Linked DNA regions of Homo sapiens. The protein of the gene in region 7 purifies or fractionates together with the protein of the main gene of each other region. This does not show direct contact. Each region holds a gene or a part of one and is shown on either strand. Other genes may lie near its edges. The genes, in order: HTR1E, CCKBR, MRS2, PLCD1, PNPT1, DSG4 and DYM.

Region 1 (3,500 bases), on a different chromosome or scaffold from region 7:
AGCCTCAGGTCCCAGCTGGCTGCTGGCTGGAGACGTTCTTTTGCTACCACATGGACCTCTCTATAGGGCTACTAACAAAACAGAGTGCTTCATGCAGATGTTGCAGCTTGCTGTCCTTGGAGCAAGGGCTAAGATTGAAAGATAGCAAAATAGAAGCCAAGGTCTTTTTGTAACCTGATATCAGAAGTGATATCCCATGGCTTCTGCTGTGTTCCTCATTAGAGACAAGTCACTAGTTTCAGCCTAATTCAAGGGGAAGGGATTACACAGTGGGAGGAATACCTACAGGAACCAAATCATTGAGAGCCACCTGAGATACTGCCTGCCACAATATAAGACATCAGAAGCTGTTTGATAAAGACTCAATTCAGTATCACCTCGTGGTTTTATCTCATAGTAATGTTCTCAGACTGAAATTAGATAATCTGTCAAAGAATTTGTAAAATATAAAGCTCTATACAATATCAAGATTTTATTAGTTTTATTAATGCTGAGAATCCAGTTCCACTTTATAGATAGTGATATAAGAACAGCAAATCAATGATTAAGAGATGTGAATTTTACACCTTGCTGTGTGTGTGACCTTGGAAAAGCCATTTATTTGTTTCATACCTTAGTTCTCTCATGAAAGTGATGATAATAACAGACTTACCAGGATAAAATAGATAATAGACAGCCATGCAGCACATTGACAATATTTTGGTCACCCACAAACCACATATATGACAGTGGTCCCACAAATTATAATGGAGCTGAAAAATTCCTACAGCCTAGTGACATCATCGCTATTGCAATGTTGTTGTAGCACAATGTATCGCTCATGTGCTTGTGATGAGGCTGGTGTAAGCAAACCTGTGCTGCCAGTTGTATAAAAGTATAGCACATACAATTATGTATAGTATATAATACTTGATAATAAACAACTGTTACTGGTTTATACATTTACTGTACTATACTTTTTATCATTATTTTGGGGTGTGTTCCTACTTAATTAAAAAAAAAAAGTGAAAAGAAGTTTAACTGTAAAACAGCCTCAGGCAGGTCCTTCAGAAGGTATCCCAGAAAACAGCATTGTTATTACAGGAGATGACAGCTCCATGCATGTTATTGCCCCGAAGGACCTTCCAACGGACAGGATGTGTAAATAGATACAGTGATACTGATAATCCTGAGCCTGTGTAGGCTAAGGCTAATGTGTCTGTATCTTAGTTTTGTTTGTTTGTTTGTTTGTTTGTTTGAGACAGAGTCTCAGTCGCCCAGGCTGGAGTGCAGCAGCACAATCTCACCTCATTGCAACCTCCGCCTCCCAGGTTCAAGCAATTCTCCCACCTCAGCTTCCTAGTAGCTGGGATTACAGGCACTCACCACCATGCCCAGCTAATTTTTTGAATTTTTAGTAGAGACGGGATTTCACCATATTGGCCATGCTGGTCTTGAACCCCCGACCTCAAATGATTCGCCCGCCTCAGCCTCCCAAAGTGCTGGGATTACAGGCGTGAGTATCTTAGTTTTTAACAAAAAAGTGTGAAAAGGAAAGAAAAAATTTAAAGTTTTAAAAATAGAAAAAAGTTTATAAAATAATGTTATAAATAATGAGAATATTTTTGTATAGCTATACAATGTGTTTTAAGCTAAGTGCTATTACAAAAAGAGTCAAAAAGGTTTTTTTAATTTAAAAGTTTGGGGGTTTTTTGTTTTGTTTTTGTTTTTGTTTTTGTTTTTTTGAGATGACGTTTCTTTCTTGCCTCCCAGACTGGAGTGCAGTGGCGTGGTGATCCCAGTTCACTGCAACGTCCGCCTCCCCAGTTTCAAGCAATTCTCCTGCCTCAGCCTCCCAAGTAACTGGGATTACAGGCATGTGCCACCATGCCCAGCTAAATTTTGTATTTTTAGTAGAGATGGGGATTCACTATGTTGGCCAGGCTGGTCTCAATCTCCTGACCTCAGGTGGTTTACCTGCCTCGGCCTCCCAAAGTGCTGGTATTACAGGCATGAGCCACCACACCCGGCCTAATTAAAAAGTTTATAAAGTAAAAAAGTTATAGTAAGATAAGGTTAACTTATTATTGGAGAGAGAAAAAATGGTTTTTACAAATTAGGTATAGCTTAAGTGTACAGTGTTTTTAAAGTCTACAGTAGTGTACAGTAATGTACTAGGCCTTCATATTCGCTCAACACTGACTCACTGACTCACCCAGAGCAGCTTCTAATCCTGCAAACTCCATTCATGATAAGTTCCCTACACAAGTATCCCATTTTTTATCTTTATACCATATTTTCACTGTACCCTTTCTACGTTTAGATACACAAATACTATTGTGTTACATTTGCCTACAGTATTCAATACAGTAACATGCTGTCTGGCTTTGTAGCCTAGAAGCAATAGGCTATGCCACATAGCCTAGGTGTGCAGTAGGCTACACCATCTAGGTTTGTGGAAGTACACATCTTGATGTTCACACAATGATGAAATGGCCTAACAATGCATTTCTCAGAATGTATGATGCATGGCTATATATAAAATTATGCTGAAATCTAAAAAAATGAGATGATGGTCATAATGACAATGATGAAGATGACTATATGTTTCAGCTTCTACTCCATGGTCCTTTGAGGACAACTGAAGTAACTAGATATGATTTTTGTCAGTTGTGTTTTAAGTGTATGTATCAAATCCAGCTACCCCAAGTTTTACAATAACTTTATATGGTTTAATCTTATCTTGCTGAACACATTAGATATGCTGCCCTGAAAAGTGGCTTGCAAACAGAATTTTTAGAAACTGAACCATAATTAAAATGCACAGAGGCCGGGCACGGTGGCTCACACCTGTAATCCCAGTACTTTGGGAAGCCAAGACAGGCGGATCACCTGAGGTCAGGAGTTTGAGACCAGCCTGACCAACATGAAGAAACCCTGTCTCTACTAAAAATACAAAATTAGCCATGCGTGGTGGCACATGGCTGTAATCCCAGCTACTCAGGAAGCTGAGGCAGGAGAATCGCTTGAACCCAGGAGGCGGAGGTTGTGGTGAGCCGAGATCGCGCCATTGCACTCCAGCCTGGGCAACAAGAGCGAAACTCTGTCTCAAAAAAAAAATGCACAGAGAAGGTTTCCATGTATCTAGTGGAATTGTACAATGCTTATGTGATCTTGTGATATCATTAATATTTTGTAATATAAATAATTATCCTCATTATTTTAATTTTCTGGCATTGTAGCAACACCTGTATAAATATTTATAGTTACTTAAGAACTCACAAAACAACCTTTTGAAGTAGGCAAATAAAACCAACTCTTGGTTATCTCAAAGAGTTCTTTTTGTTTGATTCTTGTGTTATCTACATTTCTTCTCTCACTGTAAATTGGCATAAATTTGGCAGATACAAAACAAGTAAAGTTCAAACTCCTCCACTCAACCACTTTAAGGGATTTTTTTTCCTGCTTATAAGTATATCACATGTTCATTGTAGAAAATTTGGAAATGCAGAAAAGTATAA
Region 2 (3,500 bases), on a different chromosome or scaffold from region 7:
CAAGCCACAGCCAGCAGGAGGTCGCTGACTGCCAGTGAGAGGAGGAAGGCATTGGTGACAGTCCTCAGGCGGCGGCTCAGTCCCAGGACCACGATGATGAGCATATTTCCTCCAACGCTCATCAGGAAGATCACTGCGTAAAGAGTGATTCTAATGGCCAGCTCCAATTCTGGGTAAGAAAAGGGAGAGGTGGCAGTAGGGGGTCAGCCTTCATTCAGTCAAATCCCCCTCCTTCCGTCTTATCCCCAACCCTCACTACCCAGCCAGATGCCTACATTCCCCACCGATGAACTGCTCAGTAAATGGTGAACTTGAATCCTTTAGCCTTCTAACCCCTTGAGGTTTGGTTAAATTGGCCCAACTCTGCCCTTCCTTAAGAAAGCCTGTCTCTTCTCAAGGTTCGTTCCAAATCTTTCCTTCTTTCTGCAGACAAACTTCTTAAGAGGATATTTGTGTCTTCTCATTTACTCTTCATTCCATTACAATACAATATTCTGTGCCCTATCAGTGCATACTTCTTCCCAAGTACACTAATCTTTAACTGCTAAATTCAAAGGTCCTTTCTTAGCCTACTCTATTTGACCCCGCTAGAGTATTCTACACTGTTGACAACCCACTACCTTTTGAATCACATCAGATCATGTCTTTATTCTCTAAAAACAAAAGCAAAAAAAAAAAAAAAAAAAATACTTCACTTACTCTCTACTGTCTGCAACCCCTCAGAATATCATCAAGATCCTCCCAGAAGGGACTTCTTTCTCTCCCACCCCCTCCCTGTACAGCAGGCATTTAAGCAAGCCACTGGATGACTCAATTTCTTGAATGCATCATTTGCACTTGTGACTCTCTCCCTGCTCAAGCTGGTTTCTCAGACCGGAATACTCTTTTACCAACCCTCCTCACAACTTCTACCCCTCATCACAAGCTTATTTTCTGTATCTGGTGAATTCCTATTCATCCCTTGTTGGTCAAGACTCAAATTGACTGCTACTTCTTCTGTAAGGCCCTTCTGTAAGGCCCTTCTACTCTCCTCTTTCTCTGACCCATGCCTGTTTCTTACACAACTATTACAGCCTATTTTACTTCTGCCTTGTATTTTAATTCTCTCCAAACATTCATTCTCACTCTATAAACATTTACAGAGGACTCCCTTTGTGCTAGGCACTGGGGACAAAGAGATGAACATGACAAGATCCCTGCCATTTGAGAGCTCACAGTGGGGAAGTAAACTCAGATACATAAACAGATGTGATAAGGAGTGAGGCTGAAGGATGTATAAGGTGCTGTTGGAGCTCATAGGAGGGACACCTGTGTGAGGCAGAGGGGCTGGGAGGCTGACCCCATTCTTTTGTGTCATTGTCTATTAAAAGATGGATTAATCTTTGGACCACCACATCACAGCCAAGCAGATTTAGATAAAATCGAATTGGATTGAACAGGACTGAATTACTCACACCTATGGCCTCAGCATGAGAGGGATTAGAGCTGGAAGGTAGAGAGGGCAGGGGACAGAGCCTCCTAGATTGCAGAGAAGGAAAGCCTCAAAGCTGCAGCCCCCTCTTCCAGAGCCCCATACTTTGACTGATTCTCATTTTAGCTCCCAAATTGAAAACTACAGCCATGCACTGAATAACGATGTTTTGGTAAATGACCAATTTCATATACGATGGTGGTCTCATAAGATTGTAATGAACAGCTGAGTGCAGTGGCTTATCTTTGTAATCCCAGCACTTTGAGAGGCCAAGGCGGGAGGATCACCTGAGGCCAGGAGCTTGAGATCAGCCTGAGCAACATAGCAAAGTCCCGTCTCTACAAAACATAAAAAATTAGCTGGGTGTGGTGATACGTGCCTATAGTCATAGCTACTCAGGAGTTTGAGGCAGAAAGATTGCTTGAACCCAGGAGTTCAAGGCTGCAATGAGCTATGATAGTGCCACTGCACTCCAGCCTGCACAACAGAGTGAGACTCTGTCTCAAACAAAACCCAAAATAACAACAACAAAAGATTATAATGGAGCTGAAAAGTTTCTATCACCTAGTAATGTTATTGTAACATTGCAGCATAATGCATTACGTATGTGTTTGTGGGGATACTGGTATAAACAAACCTACTGTGCTGTCAGTCATATAAAAGCCTAGCACATACAATGATGTACATAATACTTGATAGTGATAATAAATGACTGTGTGACTGGTTGATGTATTTACTACATTATACTTTCAATCATTATTTTAGAGTATACTCTTACTTATTTTTTTAAAAAAGTTAACTATAAAACAGACTCAGGCAGGTCCTTTAAGATGTATTCCAGAATAAAGCACCGTTATTATAGGAGATGACAGCTCCATGTGTGGTGTTGCCCTGATGACCTTCCAGTGGGACAAGATGTAGAGGTGGAAGATGGCAATATTTATCCTGACCCTGTGTAGCCCAATGTGTGTGTTTGTGTCTTGGTTTTAACAGAAAGGTTTTTTTTTTTTCTAAAGTTAAAAACAGAAAAATGCTTATAGGATAAGAGTATAAAAAAAGAAAATATTTTTGTATAGCCATACAATGTGTTTTTTGTTTTACACTGTGTTATTACAAAAGAGTCAAAAAGTTTATAAAGTAAAAAGTTACAGTATGCTAAGTTTAATTTATTATTAAATACATTTAGTGTAGCCTAAGTATCCAGTGTTTATAAAGTCTACAGTAGTGTACAGTAATGTCCTAGGCCTTTACTTTCACTCACCACTCATCACTGACTTAGCCAGAGCAACATCTACTCCTGCAAGTTCCATTAACGGTACGTGCCCTATACAGGTGTATGATGGTTTATCTTTTATGCTGTATTTTCACTGTACCTTTTCTATGTTTAGATACACAAATACATAACATTGTGTTACTCTTCCCTACAATATTCAGCACAGTAATATACTGTACAGGTTTGCAGCCTGGGAGCAGTAGGCTATACCGTATAGCCTAGGTATGTAGTAGGCTATACCTTCTAGGTTTGTGTGACAAACACTCTATGATGTTTACACAATGAAATCACCTAATGATGCATTTCTCAGAAGGTATCCCCATCATTAGTTAATGCATGACTGTATTTTCTCATAACAAAAACCAATTTATTTAGAAATTGTAGGCATCAAATAAATGCTATTTATAAAAACTTCCAAACCGAACTCAGCAGTAACATTCTTTGCTCAAGACCACACACCTGATAAGGGGCTGAATCAGAATAGAAGCCAAGTCCCTGATCCCTAATGTGCTTTGCCTCCTACTGTTTGTTCCTGCAGTACTCTGTTATTCATCATACTACCTCCATGTTTTTTGTTTGTTTGTTTGTTTTTGTTTTTGTTTTTGAGATGGAGTTTTGCTCTTGTTGCCCAGGCTGGAGTGCAATGGCATGATCTTGGCTCACCGCAACCTTTGCCTCCTGGGTTCAAGCGATTCTCCTGCCTCAGCCTCCTGAGTAGCTAGAATTACAGGCATGCACCACCACGCCCGGCTAATT
Region 3 (3,500 bases), on a different chromosome or scaffold from region 7:
TATGCTCCCAGCACCAACTCTTGCATGTAGCCAGTTCCTGAACAGTACCATCCTGACTTAACAGGAGGAAGAAAAGATAATGAAAGATTTGTGGGGTCAGGGAAGCAGAGAACCACCCTTGTTTAGAGCCTGACAGGAGTCTCAGACATCTAAGGACTCTTAATTTAAAGGAGGAGTCACTGGAAGAACTGTGCGTGATTCCTATGTCAATCTAGGTCTCAAAAAGATGCATCATTTACCTGGCTCAAACAAAGGATTGTACAAACAAATCAAAAAATGACTTGATGAAATGATTTAATAAAATAATTATCACATGTCAAGCATTTTTATAATATACATAGAGTCTTTAGTTCTATTTGACTGGGTCATAACATTTAAGAATTAAGTGATATCTCCATGTAGGATCCTTAGAGACGACTTGTTTCGGGGCAGGATGTGGTCAGGGGACATGCCATTGAAACAATACCCCAACTTGTCTTCCCACTCAATGACATTTCAAAATCAGAATAAACCCAAGAAGCTAAATAAAAACAGACTTACCCAATATTGCAGGAGTGCTTCTATAGCTCTAAACTCAAAAGGTAAAGGGTATGTAACGAGTTGACCCTCTCCAGACAACTGTGAAGGGAGTTCCCGGAACAGCCATTGCTCTAAGTTTAAATTACGATAATCTAATATCAGAAGACACTCTGGAGTTATCACAGCTTTCAAATACTGTTAAAAAAAAAAAAACCAAAACATATAAATATGTGAGTGTATATACACACATGCATGTATATACATATATATGTATACATACATATATATATGCAAATTGTAGAGCTGTAGGAAAAAAGAACATTCATAAAATTTGGTTTAATACTTTACTAATTGTGGATTAAGACTAAACCAAATCAGTGTTCATTTTTGTTTTTCAAAAAAATCAAGGTTTTTTTTTTCAAAAGAAAAGAAACTTAAAAAATATATGTCTTGATACTGCTAACTCACTCTCAATAAAACTGGAATTATTCACATAAATTATATATTTACTAAGACTTCTGGGGTAATCATGAAAAAAAAACAAAAACAAAAAAAAAAACACCAAAAAATACCCCCAGAAAGCCGGGCATGGTGGCTCATGCCTGTAATCCCAGCACTTTTGGAGGCTGAGGAAGGTGGATCATGAGGTCAAGAGATCGAGACCATCCTGGCCAACATGGTGAAACCCCGTCTCTACTAAAAATACAAAAATCAGTTAGGCGTGGTGGCCCACACCTGTAGTCCCAGCTACTTCAGAGGCTGAGGCAGGAGAATCGCTTGAACCTGGGAGGCGGAGTTTGCAGTGAGCTGAGATTGTGCCACTGCACTCCAGCCTGGCGACAGAGCGAGACTCCGTCTTTCTTTTTTGGAAAAAATAAATAAATAAATAAAGGGAACAAGATAAGGTCTTCCTAAAAGTCAGGTATTGAGCAGACTTTTAGAAAAGATTTAGTTTAATCATAATTAGTTTGGCACAAATGGAAGTTTCCTTTTTAAAACACCACTAAAGCATATAAACAAAATCTGAAATTAAGATGAAACATAGCCTTACTACTCTAATTTAGAACAATATGAAATTAGAATTTTTTCTAAAAAGACTGGTTATCTTGTATGTTAAAAGTAGATAAAGGTAGCCACTTTATCAGTGATATAGAAATTAGAGATAATTTTCTATTTTTACATTTTTCCAACATTCTATCATGAATTTTTTTTTCTTTTTTTTTTTTGAGATGGAAGTCTTGCTCTGTCACCCAGGCTGGAGTGCAGTGGGGCAATCTCGGCTCACTGCAACCTCCACCTTCAGGGTTCAAGCTATTCTCCTACCTCAGCCTCCTGAGTAGCTGGAATTACAGGCACCCGCCACCATGCCTGGCTAATTTTTGTATTTTTTAGTAGAGACGGGGTTTCACCATGTTGGTCAGGCTGGTCTCGAACTCCTGACCTCAGGTGATCCACCCCTCTCGGCCTCCCAAAGTGCTGGGATTACAGATGTGAGCCACCACAACCTAGCCTCATGAAAATTTTTATACAGAAAAGTTGAAAGATTGCAGTGAACACCATATACCCACCAGTTAGATTACACAATTATCATTCTGCTGAATTTGCTTTTTCACATACCTGTCTGTCTCTCCATGAAAGAGACACTGTTTTGAAGAATGCTAGCTACTGATTCCAAGAGTAGAGAATATTTCTGAAGAAAATCACATGGGAGAAGACTGCTTCATTTTTGATAAAGTATTTTTTATTTACTTATTTATTTTTAGAGATGGGATCTTGCTATGTTGCTTAGGCTGGTCACAAACTCCTGGTCTCTGGTGACCCTCCCACTTCAGCCTCCTGAGTAGCTGGGACTAAAGGCACATGCTACCAATACTGGCCCATTTTTTATTATTTTGATTAGTTCTAGAAAAATGAACAAAAATCTGCCATCAAAGACTCTTTGAAGAAAGTCTCATACCCACTACAGGGCCAATACCATTCATCTATTTTTGAACCTAAACATTAGCCCACCAAAATAACTGAAACCCACATTAACTCTGAATCACTAAAGAAAGTCAAATTATTATTTGGCATGCTCTGAATAGGTAAGGGAAAATACAATATATTTCAGAAAGTTTTCCATTAAAAAAATTTAAACTGGCCAGGCACGGTGGCTCATGCCTGTAATCCCAGCACTTTGGGAGGCAGAGGCAGGTGGATCACCTGAGGTCGGGAGTTTCAGAGCAGCCTGACCAACATGGAGAAACCCCATGTCTACTAAAAATACAAAATTAGCTGGGTTTGGTGGCTTATGCCTGTAATCCCAGCTACTCAGAAGGCTGAGGCAGGAGAATTGCTTGAACCTGGGAGGTGGAGGTTGCAGTGAGCCAAGATCGTGCCAGCCTGGGCAACAAGAGCAAAACTCCATCTCAAAAAAAAAATTAAGGCTATAAAATTTAATGTCTATTCCTGTGCTATTTAGAAAGCCAGAATACATTTTTGGTAGCTCAGGTTATACTATAATTACATGTAACTGTACACAATTGGATATATATCTATTATAAATCAGGATTGTCTTATAGTTTCCAGAACTAGAGAGTAAATCCCAACAGTGAGAATGAACACCACAGTCAGAGCTTTTCCAACTTAAAACACAGCAGTGTTATGCCTATTGAACATGTGCATATAATCCATATAAAATGAGTTCTACTCATAATAGCATATTAAGCTATAAAACATCCTATGTTTCAGGTAGCTATTTCTATTCCAAAATTACTTTTAACCTAGATACTAATCAAGATAGTTAGAAGGTAACTTTTATAAGATTGTATTGGAGAAACATAGATGAAAATAAAATATTTTACCTCCATTCTCATGATAATCCTATTGTTTCTGACTGTGATACTCATTACATGCTGAAATCTCAAATCTCTGGCTTGAAGACCTAACTCTTGGTATAATTCAGTTTTCTTCCTTTCTATAAAAGAAATAAACAGAGAGGG
Region 4 (2,824 bases), on a different chromosome or scaffold from region 7:
CCACCTAGCAACTGAAGGGGAAGATCCTGCTGAAGGGGAAGAAGCTCGGGGGGCTCCTGCCCCCTGGAGGGGAGGGTGGCCCTGAGGCCACTGTGGTGTCAGACGAAGACGAGGCTGCTGAGATGGAGGATGAGGCAGTGAGGAGCCGTGTGCAGCACAAGCCCAAGGTTTGAGGGGGAGCTGTGGGGTGGGGCAGCCCGGGCCTTCCCCATCCCCTCACCCGTGGGAGGTCTGCCTTGTCTCAGTTCTCTGTGGCTGCCACTCAGACCCTCTGCCCCGCTCTCTCTGTCTGTCTCCCTCTGTCTCTCTGCGCCTGGGTTTCTGGCTTTCTCAGTGCCTACCCTACCCCAACCACTGAATCTAACCCGGGCCTCCCCGTGTTCCCCAGGAGGACAAGCTCAGGCTAGCACAGGAGCTCTCTGACATGGTCATTTACTGCAAGAGTGTCCACTTTGGGGGCTTCTCCAGTCCTGGCACCCCTGGACAGGCCTTCTACGAGATGGCGTCCTTCTCTGAGAACCGTGCCCTTCGACTGCTCCAAGAATCAGGTGAGGCCTGGCTCCCCACCACTCCCCTGCTCTGTTACAGAGAGAATTGGCAGGGCAGGGCTTGGGCCTCACCAGGAGGCCTCCACTGCTGACCGAACCACACCTCCCCTCAGGAAACGGCTTTGTCCGCCACAACGTGGGGCACCTGAGCAGAATCTACCCGGCTGGATGGAGAACAGACTCCTCCAACTACAGCCCCGTGGAGATGTGGAATGGGGGCTGCCAGATCGGTATGGGCTGGCTGGGGCTGGAGGAGGCCTGGAGGAGGGTTTCAGTCCCAAGGCCGGGGGCCTGGAGCCTCGAAGGCCATGCAGTGGAGCTCTGAGGACCCAAGCAGGGTCAAATGCAGGGGCTTGTGGAGCTGGTAATATCAGTCTGGAAATATCTGCCCACCAGCATGTCACAGTGTCTGAAACCTCATTAGCACACTAGTCCTTTGAATTCTCACACCAGGAATGGAAGGTGTGGTTAGCATGGTGGGTCACTGAGGGTGGCAGGAGGGCAGCAGGCATTGGAGTGATGCTGGGCCCTGCTAACTCACCATGTGACCCTAGGCCTTAGTGTACCCTGAGCAGGCTGTGCTCTAGGGCCCCAGGGCCAGCCCACAGCCTGTGACTGCTCTGTCCTGCCTGTAGTGGCCCTGAATTTCCAGACACCTGGGCCAGAGATGGACGTGTACCAGGGCCGCTTCCAGGACAACGGGGCCTGTGGGTACGTGCTGAAGCCCGCCTTCCTGCGAGACCCCAACGGCACCTTTAACCCCCGCGCCCTGGCTCAGGGGCCCTGGTGGGCACGGAAGCGGCTCAACATCAGGGTACGCTGGACCTAGGAGGGACAGGTGCCCACGGACCTCCCTTCCCCGCTACCACTCCTGAACTGTCCATTGTCCTCTGCCTTTCCTCAGGTCATTTCGGGGCAGCAGCTGCCAAAAGTCAACAAGAATAAGAATTCAATTGTGGACCCCAAAGTGACAGTGGAGATCCATGGCGTGAGCCGGGACGTGGCCAGCCGCCAGACTGCTGTCATCACCAACAATGGTAGGTGCTGGGCCTGGGCTGGGCTACTAGGGCTGGTGTCCATGCTGCTGATATGGTGCCTGTCCCCCTAGGTTTCAACCCATGGTGGGACACGGAGTTTGCGTTTGAGGTAGTTGTGCCTGACCTTGCCCTCATCCGCTTCTTGGTGGAAGATTATGATGCCTCCTCCAAGAATGACTTCATTGGCCAGAGTACCATCCCCTTGAACAGCCTCAAGCAAGGTGAGTGTCAAGAGAAGGGGATGGCCAAGGTGGTGGGAAGCAGGGCCTGGCGTCTCTTGGGCTGGGGCTGGCTGTCCCTTGACGCATCCACCCCCCCTCCGCCGCCGAATGACCAGAACTCTCTCTGTGTTCCCTCCTGCCTGTCCACCCACCAGGATACCGCCATGTCCACCTCATGTCTAAGAACGGGGACCAGCATCCATCAGCCACCCTCTTTGTGAAGATCTCCCTCCAGGACTAGGCTGGAGGAAGCCAGTGGGGTCCCCCCTGAGTGGGCTGGGCCCTCTGTCCACATGTGGGGACAGGGCTGGTGTGGCTGCTCCCAGCCTCTTGCTCAGAGCTAGGCCCCCAAATTGCCTTCAGCCCTAACATAGTGTCTGCTGCTGCCTCCCTGGGGACCAGGAGCTAGCCCAGTCCCTGGAGCTGTCCTTCATTCCGTTAGGAATAACACTGCAGCCCTCTCCACCCTCCGGCCAGCGAGTGGTCAAGGATTTTTATAAAAATCACGATAAGATTAAGCCTTGTGGTCTCTTTACCTGGATGCCAGAAAAATCCCCTGTGAAGCGTGTGTGTGTGTGTGTGTGTGTGTGTGTGTGTGTGTGTGTGTGTGTGTCCCCATGTCCTAGAGTGCTGGAGCCCTAGCACCTCACTCTCCACCTTCCTTGCACATAGTTGAGTAGGGCAGGGGTATCTGGAGAGACCAACGAGAAATAAACCCCTCTGTGGGGTGGCACTGAGAGCTCACACCCGCCAGCCCTGGAGGCCCCTTCCCCTGAGAGGTGGACCTGCTGAGTGGCCCGGGCTTGAAAGCACGCATACCACAGCTCGTATGGGCTGCCTGCTTTTACTGACACGCAGAGGATGACCAAAAGCCTCTGAGGGGAGTGGAAGCAGGGCCTCCCCAGCATTGTAGGTATGTTGGGGTCCAGGGGATAGGGGCAGTCGAGAGGGCTTGGGTTCAGAAGAAGCCCAGCTGCTTTTTCTCCTGCCGCTGCCTCCACGTGGCCATGCTGTAGAA
Region 5 (3,500 bases), on a different chromosome or scaffold from region 7:
CCAGAAACCATGATTACGTAAACTAAAAATCCTACACAGAAAACTAATGACCATAAGCAAAGTCAACGAACTAGGAAATAAAATATTTTATTTATATGTTATTAAACATAATATTTTATCTTTACATTTTAATAAAGCTCTGTCCATATTGAAAGAAAATCAGTAATAAAAAGACTGCCAACCAAGTAGAAAAGTGTTGAAGGCCATGAACAGGGAGTTCTCAAAATAAGACATATAAATAGGTTTATGAACATGAAATAGTTTTCAACCTCAGTCATAAAAAACAAGTCAGATTTAAAATAACCATTTTTTACACTTTAAATTGAGAAAAATCAAAAGATTTGACAAGAATTAATAAGAATATAGAGTAGCATATACCTTCTTACACCACTGGTAAAAGTTTAAAATGCTATGTCTTTAGAAGGCAGTTTGACAGTCTAACAAACGTAAATGCACATACCTTTTGACTCAGCAATCGCACTTCTGTGTGTGACTTGTAAAACATACAGGGAGTACTAAAACTATTCAAAGGAATAAAGTAGAGCTTTGTGTGGTGGTATGTGTCAATATCCAAGACATGTTATTAAGTGAAAAAGGCAAGGTGCAGAACAGTAAATGCATACAGTCTGCCGCCACGAGTAAAGAAAACAAAAGATTATATTTACATTTATACTTGTGCACAGAAATTTTCTAGGAGGATACACTAATGTTAGCTGCCATGGGGAGGTAAACTGAGGAGTTCAGGCTGGAAGAATTTACCAAATAGATGCTTACTTTCCAACAAAAAGAAAATAAGACACCTGAAGCAAAAAAGCAAACCAACGGATAATTTAAAAGTTATAAAGTTTGCTATTGTTAGAGAAGTTTTTGCTGGATATAGTACTTGTTTACATTGTTTTAGGGAACTTTATTATATGTTCAAAAACAAACGAAGTAGTCAGATGACCTCTTAAGACTTCCAACTCAGCTTCGGTGATTGTCAATTTAGGCAACAATATCCACTTACATTAAAAGTAAATGTCTGCTGGGCGCGGTGGCTCACGCTTGTAATCCCAGCGCTTTGGGAGGCTGAGGCTGGCAGATCACCTGAGGTCAGGAGTTCAAGACCAACAGGGCCAACATGGTTGAAACCCCATCTCCACTAAAAATACAAGCAAATTAGCTAGGCGTGTTGGCGGGTGCCTATAATCCCAGCTATAGGGGAGGCTGAGGTGGGAGGATTGCTTGAACCCAGGAAGCAGAGGCTACAGTGAGCCAAGATCATGCCACTGCACTCCAGTCTGGGCAACAGACCGAGACTCCCTCTCAAAAAAAAAAAAAAATTGATAGATAAATATTTGTTTTAGGCTCATGTACACATTACCCACAGTTGTTCTTTTTCCCAATTATAGGGGTTCCAATTTCATCTGCTGTTGCAGGCGTAGCAATAGGATTGGTCACCAAAACCGATCCTGAGAAGGGTGAAATAGAAGATTATCGTTTGCTGACAGATATTTTGGCAAGTATATTCTCGGTTTCAAATATTTAATAATGAAGACTAAAAATAAATAAATAAAAATTAAAAGATAAAAACAAATAATGGTGAAGACTATATGTACTTTGCACCTAGCGTATGCTTAGAAGAATGCTAGTATTTGAAGAACAGGTACTTGTTCTTCCCTTCCTCCTCTGCATGTTCACCTTGTATCTTATAGGATATGAATTTAAAATAGATATTATATTAATAGTAATAGGCCAGGCACAGTGACTCATGCCTGTAATCCCAGCACTTTGGGAAGTCAGGAGTTCCAGACCAGTCTGGCTAATGTGGCAAAACTCCATCTCTACTAAAAATACAAAAATTAGCCTGGGCATGGTGGCACACACCTGTAATCCCATCTACTTGGCAGGCTGAGGCAGAATTGCTTGAACCCGGGAGGCAGAGGTTGCAGTGAGCCAAGATCGTGCCACTGCACTCCATCCTGGGCAACAGAGCAAGACTGTGTCTCAAAATAAGTAAAATAAAATAAAATAAAATGATTACTTTAAAAAAATAGTAATACTTACCCTTAAGTATTGCAGTAATACTTACACAGTGTAAGTATTCATAATGACTCACTTTAGGATGAGCATAAATTCATTCTCAGGCATTTATGAGGGAAAGGAATGATCTAAAAATAAAATGATGTTTCTGGTGAAAATAATTGTAGCTTAAAAAGTCACAAATTGGAAGTGGTAGTTAATGTAGAAAACATTGCTTTGTGTTTGGACTTAGGATATGGTTTACTTCTAAAGCTGTTTTTTGAAATGTTTCTACAGTGAATATGTTGACTTTTGTTTTTGTTTAAAACTATGTCATAACTTTTTAAATTCCTGAAGGGAATTGAAGATTACAATGGTGACATGGACTTCAAAATAGCTGGCACTAATAAAGGAATAACTGCATTACAGGTATTTTTAAAACCCATTTTGTTTCATTTTTGTAACATTTAAATAATGCCATGAGTCAATATTTATATAATTGTTTGACTTTTCCATATTAGGCTGATATTAAATTACCTGGAATACCAATAAAAATTGTGATGGAGGCTATTCAACAAGCTTCAGGTGAGCTAGTGTGCTTGATTCTCCCTTCATTCTTTTCCACTTTGCTAATGGGAACTATAGTTCTCATTAGGCTTATTATAAAATATTGCTTTAAAAAGTGGAATTTCATATAACTTAGATCAAGAAGTACTGGCCAGGTGTGGTGGCTCATGTCTGTAATCCCAGCACTTTGAGAGGCCGAGGCAGGCAGATCACTTCAGGTCAGGAGTTCGAGACCAGCCTGGCCAACATGGTGAAACCCTGTCTCTACTAAAAGTACAAAAATTAGCCGGGCATGGTGGTGCATACCTGTAATCCCAGCTACTCAGGAGGCTGAGACAAGAGAATCGCTTGAGCCCAGGAGGCAGAGGTTACAGTGAGCCGAGATCATGCCATTGCGCGCCAGCCTGGGTGACAGAGGGAAAATGTCTCAAAAAAAAAGAAGTACTAAGTAGCCAGGCATGGCATGGTGGCTCATCCTAGCACTTTGGGAGGCCAAGGCAGGAAGATTGCTTGAGCCCCAGGAGTTCAAGACCAGCCTGGGCAACGTAGTGAGATCCCATATCTATTTTAAAAAAAGAAGAAGCACAACTAAGTTTTTGGGACACATGAATACACGCCAAAGTGGGTTACCAGTGAAATTTCAATTTTTACAAATTAAACAACTCTATTTAAGATGGGATTTTTGGAGAAGAGAATATGAGTGAATTTTCAAGGTAATAGGGATGTGGAAAGCTTCAATTATTAAGCTACAGGGTTTAGATTGTATACCGTGAAAACTAAGAGTACAGTATTTCAGATCATATTTGTTTTATGTAGTTATAATTTTTGTGTTTTTCTCTTCTAGTGGCAAAAAAGGAGATATTACAGATCATGAACAAAACTATTTCAAAACCTCGAGCATCTAGAAAAGAAAATGGACCTGTTGTAGGTAA
Region 6 (3,500 bases), about 18 Mb from region 7:
TCGAGAAGGAGAGGACAACTCGAAGAGGAACCCCATTGCCAAAGTAAGTGATGAAGCAATCTGATGACAAATGCTTTTGCAGAGCAGGGAAGCTTTCAAATATCTCCAAGATTTGCAGGCTTCACTGCTCCACAGTTATTTAAGAAGACAGAATGTGGTCATTTGCTCCAGTTGCTGAGCCACTGATTTGAATATCATGTGCAGGGAGGCTGACGTGGGGCAGGCAGTCAATGGCAAGTGATTCTAGAAGAAAGGGCTGGATCTCCAGCACAACTGGGCTTTGTTCATCCATTTGTGTACTGCTCATTATTGCCTGTCAATGTCATAGGAAACGTATTCACATAGTGACAGTCTGAAGCCTGGCCCTCCAGAAAGTCAAGCCAAGTTTACTGCACTAGATGAATTAACTCCAGGAAAGTAAGGATAGTATCAAAAGTTCCCACCAGATCTCTACATCCAGAAAATAAGAGAGTCTTATAAGACTTTCACAAATAATGCCTACTGAAAAGGAAGGAGAGTTAAAGAATGTGTAATAAATTGATCCAGGAAGGATGGGATCCACATTAATAGCTTCATTCACTCTTTCTGGACATCTTGATCCTGAACAGTAAAGTGATCTGCAGAATTCCCTCCTTCCAGCTTTATATTAAAAACATAGTAAGCATCAGCAGTGGTGTTACAGATACAACCTCAGCTCAAGAAAACAGATGTATTCTCTCTCAGATGTTTTCAAATTGGAGGGACGCTTTTAAATTATTATTTCCATTCAACTCAGTAATTGCTTTATGTTATTCCACTTATATTGCATATTCTTTTCTTTTTCTCTGCATTTTGGGAGGTTCTTGAGTTTTCTTCTATGTAAAAAGGGCCTTTGGATTAGAGTTAAGCTAACCAAAGTTCTATTTCCAGCAGTCTTTATTTGACTGTGAATGTGTGGGTAAAAAATCTTACTATTTTACTGAATGCTCTTATCGTTAGTATATAGGTGAGATTTCAAAATTGTTTCAGTTTAAATTTATCAGCAATAGGTAATAAAGCTACTAAAGCAAAATCTGTGTGGCAGAATATTTGCCATAAAATCTATTTGGCAGAAAAGTGATGCAGTATGTTTACATTTATAAAATTATTACAAATATCTCTAACCATTATAGTTTTCTGATATTCTCAACTTATCTACCATTTTGACTAAATCTCAGACTCCAGCTTAGGTAGGATACTTATTAATATGACACAAGTTATTTTTAAAAAATAGTAAATGTTGTAATTTCTTTTGTGAAGCTATTTCTGCGTATGCTAAAAAATCAGAGAATTGAACAATGTGTTATTAACAACAAACCTAGCACCAAGTGTGTATGTTATACACATTACCTCATGTAATTCCCACAACAAATCTGTGTGATATTATCCCCACTGTAAGCTGATCTGGGCAAAGTTAAGTAAATTTTCCAGGGTCACACAGGACTAAGTCATGGTGTCAGGTTTCAATCCAAAGCCCATTTGGTAAAGAAACCCACTCCCTTCTTATTCCACTACACTCTTAAGCATTATCTGCTCTAAACTGGATCACAATCCTAGCTATTTTTCTTATAGATTCGATCAGACTGCGAATCGAACCAGAAGATAACATACCGGATTTCTGGAGTAGGGATTGATCGACCACCATATGGGGTATTCACCATTAATCCTCGCACTGGGGAAATTAACATCACTTCAGTGGTAGACAGAGAAATAACTCCACTTTTCTTGGTAAGTCATAGCCATATGTTTTGATTTGTTCATATTAGTTTTCTTCCCTTTTTCAAAAAATATTATCTTAAGATAATGGATTACTTTTGATAAAACATGGCAGACTGAACCCAAATAGAAGACTTGAAGGAATGGAAAGAGTGTGAAAATAAAAGTTTATAGTTCAGGATTCTCTGGTATGTTGCATGTACATGTAGTCAAGTGTCCTGATCATATTTAAATTATTTGACTGTACTACAGTCTGAATTCACTGGAAAAAATTGTTTCTTTGCCTATTTTCTGATATATTTTCAAGCATGTTACTAAAATTCCTTTGGTGGAAAAAGATGGCTTTTTTCCAATTTTCCACAGATCTATTGCCGGGCTCTGAATTCACGGGGTGAAGATTTAGAAAGGCCTCTTGAGCTTAGAGTCAAAGTTATGGACATAAATGATAACGCTCCAGTCTTTTCGCAAAGTGTATACACAGCCAGCATTGAAGAAAATAGTGATGCCAGTAAGTAGAATGACATTCCTTCTCTACGTCACAGCATATCTACTTCTCTTGGTCAAAAGCTTTAGAGGACTGACATACAGGAAATGTAAAGGACAGAAAAAGCCACACTTGTATTTTGAATAAACCCCACATATTTTAATTTATAACTGAGCTAGAAAAAGAAATCATGTCTAAAATGATAAAATAAAATATCTTCTTACTTGCGGAAGGTCCCTACAGGGATTTAGCAGGTGCTTAGCACCTTGCTTAAAGATTGCTACTGGGCTCATGAAGAACTAAATCCAAGCGAGCAAACTGAGGAATAAACCAGGAATGTTTAAGAAGGCTCTGTTCTGGTCTCTTACTCAAAATGTTTGGCTGACCCACACCAGGTAGAGCGTGATGGTGGAAGCACACGCAATTGTACCCATCAGATCAATCACTAAGGGTAATCATTGATCTTCACAGACTACATAGCAAACTACATTCTATTCTCTCATTTTCTTTCATTTCTTTCCATTCCACTTAATTCCATTTCCAGTTCTAATACCCTCTGTCTTTCCTTTATATTAATTCTCCTGAACTTCTTTCCTTCCTACTCTTATGCTTTTCTTATATGGCTACTTTCCTATCTCTCCTCTCCCTTTGCCTTCTGACCTTGATTTTACATACAGCACATGAATATCAGTTTGTTCCCCAAACCCCTGTTGTCCCTTTCCCTTTCAAATCTATGTCTGCCCATATACCTCTAAACAAATTTGGGGGGAAATAATAGGAAAAATAAATTTCAGGAAAAAAGGCAGATAAACACAAAATTTTTTTTTGAACTAGGATAGTCCTCCCATAGAGAGGCAAAGAGATTTTGCCTAGGAGAGCCAACACAAAGAGAGACTCCGAAGTCCATCTTTGCTTCCTCATCAACACACCTCAAAACAACACTGGTGAAGGAAGAGAAGGTGAAACCCACAACCAAGTCTCCCTGCCTAGGAAGCAAAAGAACATCAGGGACCTGACAATTCTGAAAAGTCTGTCCTGTAGATTGACATCCTTGGGGATTTGCCTAAGATACCTGTTCTTTCTACCTATGAGTAATTAGGAACTTCTTATATTGCTATGGACAAGTCTTCTTTTCAATAATTATAAATTTGTGACTGTTTGGTAAAATGCTATCTTCCAATGCAACCAAGAGTAATTATCTGCTTTCTGGAAAAGTGGCAATTAAGAATATAGGTGTTCAATACATAATTATAATGTTGCATTTAATTAAACTATAATTTTC
Region 7 (3,500 bases):
TAAATGTATTAAGGTATTATGTTACATTTTGAGCAAATGAAATGACATGGTACAAGAAAACAATAGTTTACAATACTTTCAACTCAAGTAGCAGAGTGACCATGTGTATTTATCTCTTCTCCCTCTGAGACCCCATTACCTGATGGTAGAGCAATTTTCTACACATACTGTTGAGCAACTTAGGACAGTCATTTCATCCTTCTTTAGGCTCCTTATGGCCTCTTTCAAGATCAGGAAACGGTTTTGGAGAAATAGAATATGAATTTCTGTTTTACTGCAATCTTTTTCTTCATTCTTATCCTCAGTGTATTTCCAAATTAGAAAAGGACATTCTTCTTGACTCACACTTTGAAAATACGATTTTACCATCTTCTAACATTTTAACAGCTTTTCTGTGACTGGCCACCTTGATAGCCATTTGGCAGGTTCATGTCCAAGGAGTCTATCGCCTTTCATTTCTGTAAGGTCCGAATCTCACTAAGTTCTGCAGGTTTTGAGAAAACTGAAAGGTGGCAAACATCACAGGGCAGGAAACTACTGCCTCATAGCAATGCTGTGTGCAAGGCATGCAGAACATTTAGCAGGCAAGAGCTCTTCATTTTCTTTGGTCAGAAGTTTGTAGACTAAATGGAATTTGCTGCAGTTTACATATGCCCTGTCCCCAAATAGGCAGATAGATGAGCAGACTCTAGTTTGTGCTTGAGCAAGATATCAGCAATCTTTTGTTTTCTGTTTATGTGGAAACATTTTTGTTTTCCTCTACTGATACTGGACAAATATGGTTGAGTGTATTTAAATTCAAGTTTCATCCTTGAGAGCATACTGAATTAAAAATATCACAATTAAGTTTGTTTCGTAAGTGTTCTAAAGTTTCTTTCCAACAGATGACATAGTTGGCTGGTTGCAGGGAAGGGAAATCATATGTTCTACTTTTCTTTGAAAGTTATTGTATTAGGGTTCTCTGGAGGGACAGGACAAATAGCATAGATGTATATATGAAGGGGAGTTTATTAAGGAGTAGTGACTCACATGATCACAACGTGAAGTGCCACAATAGGCCCTGTGCAAGCTGAGGAGCAAGGAAGCCAGTTTGAGTCCCAAAACCTCAAAAGTAGGGCTGACAGTGCAGCCTTCAGTCTGTGTCTGAAGGCCCAAGAGTCCCTGGCAAACCACTGGTGTAAGTCCAAGGGTCCAAAAACAGAAGAATCTGGAGTCCAGTGTTTGAGGGCAAGAAGCATCCAGCATGGGAGAAAGATGAAGGCCAGGAGACTCAGCAAGTCTGTTCCTTCCATGTTCTTCTGCCTGCTTTATTCTATTTGTCCTGGCAGCTGATTAGATGGTGCCCACCCAGATTGAGGGTGGGTATGCCTCTCCCAGTCCACTGACTCAAACGTTGATCTCCTTTGGCAACACCCTCACAGACACATCCAGGAACAGTACTTTGCATCTTTCAATCCGATCAAGTTGACACTCGATATTAACCATCACAGTATCTCAGGTATTATTCTACATTTCATAGTTAAAATGTGGATAACTTTATTATTCTTGAATAAAGCAAGCATATCAATTTTAGCAGTTTTATTTGCTGTCATCTTTTATTTTCCCTTCTGTCCCAGAAGACCATTTCATGGAAGGTCACTTATTGTTTTGTCCAGTTTTGAGTTAGTATGAATTACTACCTCATTAACTTTGGGGGATAGGGGGAAGGGGATAGGTACTGAAATTCTCTTTGATGCTGTTAAAAAAATGTTAAATTTCAGATACTGTACCAAGTTATAATTTATTAAGAATAGTTTCCTATAAAGGGTGAATAAAATGACAATGAATATGTGTGTGTGTATATATACATATATATATGTGTATATATGTTTATATATATATATTTTTTTCTTCTAAAGCCCAAGGTAGGTATAGATGTGTGTGTGTGTGTGTGTGTGTGTGTGTGTGTGTGTCTTTTCCCCTTTCCCGCTTTGTAACTGTGAGAGCCCCAGGTGTTTAGGGGCTGCCCCACGAGTATTTCCCTTGGATAAAAATGTTTACCTTGTCTTCTCAGGGGAAACAACTCTCCAGTTTCACTGTAGATCAGCCATTCCTTTCTTGGATTCTGTGCTTTCTACTCTGAAGTAATTCCTGTTGAACTTTTGAGATTCTGCTCTAAAAAAGATAGGCAGCCAATTTTTTTTTTTTTGAGACAGTTTCACTTTTGTTGCCCTGGTTGGAGTGCAATGGAACGATCTCGGCTCACTGCAACCTCCGCCTCCTGGGTTCAGGTGATTCTCCTACCTCAGCCTCCCAAGTATCTGGGATTAGAGGCATGTGCCACCATGCCCGGTTACTTTTGTATTTTTAGTAGAGACAGGGGTTTCACCATGTTGGTCAGGCTGGTCTTGAACTCCTGACCTCATGTGATCTGCCCACCTCGGCCTCCCAAAGTGCTGGGATTACAGGTGTGAGCCACTGGGCCTGGCCTAGGCAGCCAAATTTTATTGAAGCTACCTTTCATTAAGCTACCTTGGAAAAGGGAGCTGAGGCACAGGAAGCAAACTGAACCATCCTAATATTTTTAGAGATTGAGCATTTGTCATTTCACCAAAATTTATTTCAATAATAAAAGTCCCTTTGACTCCACATTTGATTAGTGGTACTGGAAAAACAGGTACTGCTTCCTCTTCCCCCTAAACTTTCACAGGCAAAATACATTTTCTGTCTCTTTCTCAGTCACTAAGTAGGAAAGGAACATAAGACCTTCTAAGTTGTTTCTGAATATAGCTAGATTTTTTGCTGGTCTTGATCTTCTTTTGGGATTGACCATTATGTTCTCTGACTACCATATAACTGTATGTTATAGTATAGACTTAATCAAGGATTTTGAGGAAGTTAACTAAGTTGGTGTGTGAGAGATACTGCAGAATTTTGGTATTTTGAATGTTATATACTTTATTTTTTTCTAGGAGAGAATATTTGTGAGAATTATGTAGAATCTAATTAATTTAACTATTCCCAAACCACCCCATCATCTTTCACAGTTATTGTTTATCATTTAGCATGATTTTCAGAGCTTGTGCTTTATACATTGAGTTTGAGTTTCAAGAGATGGATATGTTTAATTTACTATTTTGATCATTAGCCTTCTATATTTTTTAAATATATACTGATGTCTGAAGTTAGAGCTTTTAATTAGAATTGTGTCTTGCGTGTGTTAGTTTTGTTAATGCTGGCCTTCATGTTTGTGATGCCAGTAGTACCAAAAACATAGTTCTGCTTGGTAAGTTGCAAACCTTCCCATGAAGTGCTAGCAGCAAGAATGGAGTGAATGTTTATCCTCACAGGGCCCAAGAGCATAGCCCACTCAATACCTGCAAACCCAGCACTTTGTTTTGTATTATGTCCTACAAAATGTGCATATTTTTACTTTATTTAACGTGATATTGTCAGAGGCATGGGAACCAGAACAACTCCATCTTGAATAGGAGCTGGGTAAATTAAGTTGAAACCTACCA

What was found.
Region 1: the proteins of DYM (region 7) and HTR1E purify together in Homo sapiens (co-immunoprecipitation; one large-scale study listed by IntAct). This does not show direct contact.
Region 2: the proteins of DYM (region 7) and CCKBR purify together in Homo sapiens (co-immunoprecipitation; one large-scale study listed by IntAct). This does not show direct contact.
Region 3: the proteins of DYM (region 7) and MRS2 purify together in Homo sapiens (affinity purification with mass spectrometry; one large-scale study listed by BioGRID and IntAct). This does not show direct contact.
Region 4: the proteins of DYM (region 7) and PLCD1 purify together in Homo sapiens (affinity purification with mass spectrometry; one large-scale study listed by BioGRID and IntAct). This does not show direct contact.
Region 5: the proteins of DYM (region 7) and PNPT1 fractionate together in Homo sapiens (co-fractionation; one large-scale study listed by BioGRID). This does not show direct contact.
Region 6: the proteins of DYM (region 7) and DSG4 purify together in Homo sapiens (affinity purification with mass spectrometry; one large-scale study listed by BioGRID and IntAct). This does not show direct contact.

What each region holds. Positions count from the first base shown.
Region 1 is NC_000006.12:86,944,028-86,947,527, forward strand, and holds part of HTR1E (5-hydroxytryptamine receptor 1E), read left to right. Parts: intron 1-3,500. UniProt on the Homo sapiens protein: G-protein coupled receptor for 5-hydroxytryptamine (serotonin). Also functions as a receptor for various alkaloids and psychoactive substances.
Region 2 is NC_000011.10:6,266,338-6,269,837, reverse strand, and holds part of CCKBR (gastrin/cholecystokinin type B receptor), read right to left. Parts: intron 170-3,500; coding exon 1-169. UniProt on the Homo sapiens protein: Receptor for gastrin and cholecystokinin. The CCK-B receptors occur throughout the central nervous system where they modulate anxiety, analgesia, arousal, and neuroleptic activity.
Region 3 is NC_000006.12:24,409,436-24,412,935, reverse strand, and holds part of MRS2 (magnesium transporter MRS2 homolog, mitochondrial isoform b precursor), read right to left. Parts: intron 3,476-3,500; coding exon 3,363-3,475; intron 2,210-3,362; coding exon of another isoform or gene 2,137-2,209; intron 715-2,136; coding exon 541-714; intron 1-540. UniProt on the Homo sapiens protein: Magnesium transporter that mediates the influx of magnesium into the mitochondrial matrix and regulates magnesium metabolism. Also permeable to calcium, sodium and potassium ions.
Region 4 is NC_000003.12:38,006,996-38,009,819, reverse strand, and holds the end of PLCD1 (1-phosphatidylinositol 4,5-bisphosphate phosphodiesterase delta-1), read left to right. Parts: intron 1-8; coding exon 9-167; intron 168-388; coding exon 389-548; intron 549-661; coding exon 662-778; intron 779-1,183; coding exon 1,184-1,362; intron 1,363-1,452; coding exon 1,453-1,585; intron 1,586-1,656; coding exon 1,657-1,806; intron 1,807-1,961; coding exon 1,962-2,047; 3' UTR 2,048-2,324; downstream 2,325-2,824. Other genes in the region: VILL (villin-like protein), read right to left, coding at 2,765-2,824. UniProt on the Homo sapiens protein: The production of the second messenger molecules diacylglycerol (DAG) and inositol 1,4,5-trisphosphate (IP3) is mediated by activated phosphatidylinositol-specific phospholipase C enzymes. Essential for trophoblast and placental development.
Region 5 is NC_000002.12:55,645,345-55,648,844, reverse strand, and holds part of PNPT1 (polyribonucleotide nucleotidyltransferase 1, mitochondrial precursor), read left to right. Parts: intron 1-1,391; coding exon 1,392-1,498; exon of another isoform or gene 1,499-1,572; intron 1,573-2,358; coding exon 2,359-2,430; intron 2,431-2,522; coding exon 2,523-2,586; intron 2,587-3,412; coding exon 3,413-3,496; intron 3,497-3,500. UniProt on the Homo sapiens protein: RNA-binding protein implicated in numerous RNA metabolic processes. Catalyzes the phosphorolysis of single-stranded polyribonucleotides processively in the 3'-to-5' direction. Mitochondrial intermembrane factor with RNA-processing exoribonulease activity.
Region 6 is NC_000018.10:31,386,777-31,390,276, forward strand, and holds part of DSG4 (desmoglein-4 isoform 2 preproprotein), read left to right. Parts: coding exon 1-43; intron 44-1,590; coding exon 1,591-1,746; intron 1,747-2,097; coding exon 2,098-2,242; intron 2,243-3,500.
Region 7 is NC_000018.10:49,373,646-49,377,145, reverse strand, and holds part of DYM (dymeclin), read left to right. Parts: intron 1-3,500. UniProt on the Homo sapiens protein: Necessary for correct organization of Golgi apparatus. Involved in bone development.